2 linked regions of the Homo sapiens genome follow. The protein of the gene in region 1 purifies or fractionates together with the protein of each later gene. This does not show direct contact. Each region holds a gene or a part of one and is shown on either strand. Other genes may lie near its edges.

Region 1 (3,828 bases):
TATATAGTTTGTGCCATTGGACACCAAATAACCTGGTGAAAAGAAAAAATACTTACACATTTGAAAAATACAAGAACTTAGCAACCAAGCCCTAGACTGAAACTGAAGACAAAAGACCAGGCAGCATAGACATGTAATATGAAGACTATAATAACATGTATGTAAGGACAGTTTAAAGGGCACTTTCTCATGTGTTGTTTCATTTGATAGACACACTAACCCCGAGATTGATATTTACAGTTTCCCAGTTTACAGATGAGTGCATTGAGAACAAGAGAAGCGAAGTAATTATTTCAAAGCTGCACAGTTTACAAGTAGCAGATGACTCCTAATTCCACATTCCTTTTTTTTTTTTTTTTTTTTGTCTGAGACAGAATCTGGTTCTGTCGGCCAGGCTGGAGTGCAGTGGCACAATCTCGGCTCACTGCAACCTCTGCCTCCCGGGCTCAAGCAATTCTCCTGCCTCGGCCTCCCGATTAGCTGGGATTACAGGTGTGTGCCACCATGCCTGGCTAATTTTTGTATTTTTAGTAGAGACGGGGTTTCACCATGTTGGCCAGACTGGTCTTGAACTCCTGACCTCAGGTAATCCACCCACCTCGGCCCCCCAAAGTGCTGGGATTACAGGCGTGAGCCACCGTGCCCAGCCCACATTCCATATTTAAAGGGAATGGCCAAAGGGGACTAGAATAGAATAATCGCTGATACAAGCAAACAAACGGGTTTTTTAAAAAGAAATATACCACGTAGAGATAACTTCTAGAACAAAAAAAGTACGCACCGGTTCTAACCATGGTAGCTATTCTCAGGCATCAAGTGCATAGATGATATGAACTCATCTTTAACTTCCTGTCCCCATCATATTACCCAGCATCTCAACACTAGTATCTTACGCTCATCCTCACTTCACTGACTTTTTGAATTCAGATAATTAAATGCATAAAGTCCCAAAATGCGGTTATTTGGACTTTAGACATTTGCATGAATTGCCCTTACTGTCCACCTACTGATGTTTCATCCTCTTAACCACTACTCTAGAATATCTGTAAATCTCAAGGATATCATATGCATTAGTCATTGACTCTTGAGGACCTATTTCTGTCCCTGTTGCAAACGCAATCCAATAAGAAAGAATCATGGACCATCATGTTACGGGAGACACTGTGGGGCTCTGATTTGATGGCTCATACTGAGACCACCTCCCCTTTTTCATACCAATGCACTAGGACACAATGATTCTCATATATCGAGTAAGTTAAGTTAGAGAAGTCATTCATTAGACATGCTCAAAATTTGCAGCTGACAGCATGAGTAATGACCAGTCAGAGGCCCTACCATGTGGTTTACCATAAATGCATTGTAATAGGTTAAAAAAAAATGGGAGCCCCAAAGATCCCATGCCAAATCCCTGGGACCGGTGAGTTCTGCTTTATACGGCAGAATTTGTGGTTAAGTGAAGTATCTTTAGAAGAGGCCCTTACCTGGCATTATTTAGGTGAGTTCTCAGTATAATCACATGTATCCACAAGTATCCTCCCTCACAAGGGGGAGTTTTGAGAGAGAAACACACACACCGGGGAGAAGATACACAAAAGATGAGGAGGCAATGTGACCACTTAAGCAGAGATTGGAGTGATGAGGCCACAGTCAAGGAATATCTACCAGTAGCCACCAGAAGCTTGAAAAAGCAAAGGCAAATTCACCCCTAGAGTCTGGAGGGCACACAGCCCTGCCAACACCTTGATTTTGGACTTCTGGCCTCCAGAATTATGAGAGAATCAATGTTGCTAGTTTTAACCCACCCTGTTTGTGATAATTTGTTACAGCCATCCTAGAAAACTAATACTCACATATTCTGCATATTCTGAAAACTATGTCCCCCGCCGGATAGGCATACTTCAGGAAGTATCTATTGGATGCCCAAATTGCTGCTCTTTTATTTGTGACGACACTGATAAATTTACACAAGACTCTGTTGATCCATCTTTACCGCAGCTTCCCTCATGAACATCTGTTTTTGATACCATGAAATGTTTTTCACATCTTTGCAGTAGGAACAAGAAAAAATATCCCTTGCATCAAAAGAGACTTTTACCAAAGACTAGAAATTAAAACCACTTCTATACATTTTAGCTACAATTCTGTGGTTTCACAACTATTGCTATGTATGTCTATTTTTAAATAATGGTTTTTCTTTTTTCTTTCTTGAATTTTTCTGTTATTCTTTACCACACTACTAGATCTTCTACCAAGATATATAAATGTGAGCCGTTCACCACCATCTAGTACCAAATACACACACACACACACACACACACACACACACATAATTAAGTTCTGATTGCTGCTTTTTTTGAACTACACTATTTCAATTGAGTTCTATAAAAGCTAAACATCGAATTATTTTCAAATAACATCATAAAATTCAATAACCTCTTTATTATATGTAGAAAAAAGGCAATAAACCTAATAGTCACAATTTTTCAGTTTTGTTTTGAAAGTTGGTGAGTGATTTTCAGACCATTGTTCCTTTTAATCAAGTTTTTCTTAAGCTATCTTATGGATTTATTTAAAATTGTTGAATATACATCAGCTGACATGAGGGGGGAAAAATGTAAAACTTGCTGTGTAGGAAAAGGAAATCAGCTTGGAATTGAAACTGTTGGGGAGATGGGGAAGTGTCGTGTAGTGTAGGGGAAGCTAAGATTGAGCCTAGGAATCAGGATTTGATGTTCAATTTATTTGTTGATTTATGAACAAAGTAACAGCTCTTTTGCTCGGCTCATTCATCAAAATGCTATAGCCAGGAACAGTAAGAAAATAGACATGAAAATTCCTTCAAGTTAATATCCTACATAAACCTAAGGAAAAATAAATGAAGATTTCTGGCTCTGTTTTTAGAAGGTCTGAATTGAGTAAAATGTTAAAGAGAAATATCCCAAGTGAGAAATGTATTTAGATAATAACAGCCTTGATTTTTACATGCTCTACATATAGAGACCAAAAGTGAACTATTTCCACACAGCGTGATTCTTGCATGCCAATCTCAAGTGTTTGCTTTTCAAATCAGTATTACTTACAGTTATTTTCTTTCTGTACATTATCCTAAATTCTTACATTTAAATTATTTCACTGCTAAAATCTCTACATCAAGGGCATACAGGATAAGGCAATATTGTCAGCTGGGTTTCTTGGTTAATAATCTTTCCTAATTATTTTGGAGGGTTAATATTACAAGCAACGGATAGAAGTATGACAATAGTACGTATTTGATGGGAAATTTTGGGGGAACAGAAGGTGAATAGGCACCATTCGGTGTGTTTATGACATAGAGCAATTGCCATAAAGTTGGGCAGACTTTAACTGTAGAACAGATGTGCATTGTCTATCTTAGTCCCTAAAACCGCCTGTCCTTCCAGCAAGACTGCTAGTTGGACGTTTGTTTAGTTACACATTCAGCTGCTGCTTTGCTATACCAATTGTGCACAATTCAGTTACCACAAGTGTAAACATCATGACATCTAGATCTGTGATTTGCATTTGGATTTCTTGTGAAGTATTAAGAGGAAAAAATACATGCAATTGGAAGCTGCATATTCTATCATCTCAAAGTTTCTTTGATTTCCATGAAACTTTGGGTAACACATCTCTCCTCCACCAAAAGAGAAGCTGCTCCTTCTTTCGTCTGTTTGAACCCCTCCTTCTGGCTACAAATGGTCTTGGGTAATTCCCTTCTCTTCTCTGAGCCTCAGTGTCCCTGTCCATAAAAGCAGAGAGTTGGGCCATGCGTCTAAGATTTCTCTAGTTTCTGTGCTTATTTTTTTCAGA
Region 2 (3,828 bases), on another chromosome or scaffold:
ATTCCTGACACAGCTATATGGCATAACTGTTGAAGAGCTGTCCTACACAGTCCACGGATGTGTGATCACTGCTGCTCAATGCCCTTATTGGACCAAATCTCTGCCAGCATGATTCCATGCTTGGTTTTCCAAGGTTAGAGCTTGTTTCATTTATGCTTGCGTGCTCAGCCATTCTCCCCAAAGCACCTCACTCTGGGCTTTTGTTGAGCTTTTCACCAGGCTGGGTTCCCCTGGTGTCCTGGAGAGTTCTCTTTTAGGGCATTTGGGGCCCTTCCTGCTAGCAACCTTGGTCATGGTCATCTAGACCACCCAAGAGATGTCTCTGTTTTCAAACTTCTTATCAGAGTTTGTGGGCTCAGTCCCTTCTCTTCTTAACCTTAACCCAAATCCCTTTGGCAAATTGGTTCCACATACTCTCCAGGGTTCTGCCTACCGATGATTCTCAGGAATGACAGCCTTCAACAAGATAGCTACCCCAGGACTTTGGGTGCCTACTCACCTTACTTTTCCATATGTAAAGAGGGGTCGTCAGGTCACCCTGAGCCACACAGATTTAGGCATTCTGGAAAATTTACTTGGCATGTACCCTGTTAGGGATTTTGCAGGCAAGGTTTTAATTTAAAAATAAAGGATTTTAGTTTTCTCAATTTTTCTAAGAAACAATAATCAGTATATTTATTTCATTTATTTGTTTTAAACTTTTTGAATATGAAATACAGCAAATATGCATGGTAAAAAACACAATATATAGTTTAGCAAATAACTCTAAAGGAAATACACACGTAATCACCAACATGTCAAGAACTGGAACATTGCCAATACTCAGTACCTGCTTCCAAATCATAATTTCCTCCCCTAGAAGAAATCATCTTGTGATAATCATTTTTTTGCTTTTCTTTGTAATTATATCACCTATGTATATATCCCTAAACAATATAGTTTTAAGTTTTTTAATTTCATACATATAGAATCATACTTTTGCATTTTGTGTTTTGCTTCTTTTGCTCAACTTGTTTGTGAGATGCATCCACGTGGCGGCCTCACTTATTTTCGTTGCCAACAGTGTTTCATGGTATGGCTGTGTCACAATAGATGTATTCATCCTGTGGTTGATGGATACTTGAGTTGCTTATAGTTTCTGACTGCCAAGTACATCCTTAGATATTTTCTGATGTATTTGAACAAGTTTCTTTAGGTTATATATGTTAGAGTACAATTGCTTTACTAGATAGTGTCGAACAGTTTACTTTCCTACCAGGAGTATATGAGAGTTCCAGTTGCTTCATATCCTGGCAAATAGTTGCTTTTATTGGTTTTAATATTTTAACTATTTTCATGTGTGTGTCTTGATATTTCTTGTGGTTTTAACTTGCTCTCCTTGGTTACTCTTGAGGTTGAGCACTTTTTTCTTTTTTCTTTTTTTTGGAAACAGGGTCTTGCTTTGTCACCCAGGCTGGATTGCAGTGGCGTGATCATGGCTTACTGTAGCCTCAACCTCCTAGGCTCAAGAGATCTCTCCCACCTCAGCCCCCTGAGCAGCTGGGACAGCCAGATAATTATTTTATTTTTTTTTGTAGAGACCAGGTCTTGCCATATTTTCCAGGCTGGTCTCAAACTCCTGGACTCAAACTATTCTCCCATGTCAGCCTCCCCAAGTGCTGGGATTACAGGTGTGAGCTACCATGCCCAGCCCTTGAGCAGTTTTTTGTTGGTTAATTGGATTGCCTCTTTTGTGAACTGTCTATTCATGTCTCTTGCCATTTTTAAATTTTTTAAATTGATTTTTCAATAAGGAAATATATATATATATATATATATATATATATATATGGCTCTCTTTTCACCCTCTTAAATGGTGATATCTTCGATCCCATTCTGTAGAAGCAGGGCATAAAATAGAGATTCTTGTTCAAGTGAGACTGTGGGAGAAGCCCTCAGGAAGAGGAGTATGAGGAAAGCTGGATTGGGGGAGGAGAGGCACAGCCTGGTGAGGGGGCAGTTGCAGTTTTCTGGAGAAAGGGACATCTGTGAGTTGTTCTCAGCTGACACCACATCTCAGTGACAGGTGTGCTAACCAGTAAAGATGATCTGGATGGAACCAGTAGTATTCTCCACAGTCCACTTCTTGTACCATACAGATAGGCTTGCTTCTTATATTAAGTTCACTGTATCCAGGTACAGCTTCTCCAGGATTCTGGTTAGTCACAAATCCTGGGAAAACTTATAAGAGGAAGATTAGTGAGACAAATTACAACCCTTGCTGCTGCAGTTGGTCCAGAAATCTAACAAATACCCATATCATCCTCTTCCACCATCCATTTTAGTTTCCCCTTCTTTGTCCCTTGAATGTATGATAGAACTTGGTGATGAAGCCACCTGGGCTCGCAGGTGTGTTTTCTTTGCAATCTTATTTTTGACCACAGACTCAATGTCTTTAATGGTTCTAGGGTGATTTTGTTTTTATAATTTCTTAACTAAGTAATATTTTCCTAGGAGTTTATCCCTTCATATTTACTTATATAAAGTTGTTTATAATTTTTTTTTTTTTTTTTGAGACGGAGTCTTGCCCTGTCGCCAGGCTGGACTGCAGTGGCGCAATCTCAGCTCACTGCAACCTCCGCCTTCCGGTTTCAAGCGATTCTCCTGCCTCAGCCTCCTGAGTAGCTGGGACTACAGGCACGTGCCACCACGCCCAGCTAATTTTTTGTATTTTTAGTAGAGACGGAGTTTCACCACGTTGGTCTGGATGGTCTCCATCTCTTGACCTCGTGATTCACCTGCCTCAGCCTCCCAAAGTGCTGGGATTACAGGCGTGAGCCACCGCACCTGGCCGTTTATAATATTTTCTTATCATTTGGTGTACAGCATCTATAGAGATATCCCCTCTTTCATTCTGATTTCATTTTAATGCTTTTTTTTCCTTCTTCTTTGGTTTTAGTAGAGGTTCTTTTCAGAGAACCTGCTCTTATCATCAGTGATAGTCTTCATAATAAATTTGTTTTCTGTTTCATAAGTTCTGCTCTGTTCTTTATTTTTCTCTTCTATTTTCCTTGGATTTATTTTGTTCTTTTTCTGACTTCTTGAAATTGATGTTTAGTTTCATTAATTTTTATCTTTTTGATTCTCTCTATTTAAGGTTATACATTTTTTTCCAAATTCTGTTTCAGCAGGAGTTCACAAGTTTTGATATGTGGTATCTCTGTTGTTTATTTCTTTTCTTTTTTTTTTCCGAGACAGACTTTCACTCTTGTTGCCCAGGCTGGAGTGCAATGGCACAATCTCGGCTCACTGCAACCTCCACCTCCCGGGTTCAAGGGATTATCCTGCCTCCTCAGCCTCCCAAGTAGCTGGGATTGCATGCATGCGCCACCATGCCCAGCTAATGTTTTTGTATTTTAGTAGAGACAGGGTTTTACCATGTTGCTCAGGCGGGTCTCGAACTCCTTACCTCAGGTGTTCCACCTGCCTTGGCCTCCCAAAATGCTGGGATACAGGCATGAGCCACTGCGCCCAGCCTTCTTTGTTGTTTATTTCTAAAAATATTCTAATTTCCATTGTAATTCTTTTTCTTTAACCAATAGATATTATATTCGAGAAATGTGTTTTGTAATATCCAAACATACTAACATTTTCTAATTATCCTTTATTTATGACTAATTATGACTGTGGTCAGTGAGCTTGTTCTGTTTTTGGTTGGTTGGTTTGTTTGTTTTTGAGACAGTCTCACTGTCTCCCACATTGGAGTACAGTGGTGTGATCATAGCTAACTGCAGCCTTGAACTCCTGGCTCAAGCAATCCTCCTGCTTCAGTCTCCCCAGGTAGCTGGA

Evidence for each region.
Region 2: the proteins of POU2AF2 (region 1) and FBXO10 purify together in Homo sapiens (affinity purification with mass spectrometry; one large-scale study listed by BioGRID and IntAct). This does not show direct contact.

The regions. Positions count from the first base shown.
Region 1 is NC_000011.10:111,258,967-111,262,794, forward strand, and holds part of POU2AF2 (POU domain class 2-associating factor 2), read left to right. Parts: intron 1-3,828. UniProt on the Homo sapiens protein: Transcriptional coactivator of POU2F3. This complex drives the development of tuft cells, a rare chemosensory cells that coordinate immune and neural functions within mucosal epithelial tissues.
Region 2 is NC_000009.12:37,569,717-37,573,544, reverse strand, and holds part of FBXO10 (F-box only protein 10), read left to right. Parts: intron 1-3,828. UniProt on the Homo sapiens protein: Substrate-recognition component of the SCF (SKP1-CUL1-F-box protein)-type E3 ubiquitin ligase complex. Mediates the ubiquitination and degradation of BCL2, an antiapoptotic protein, thereby playing a role in apoptosis by controlling the stability of BCL2.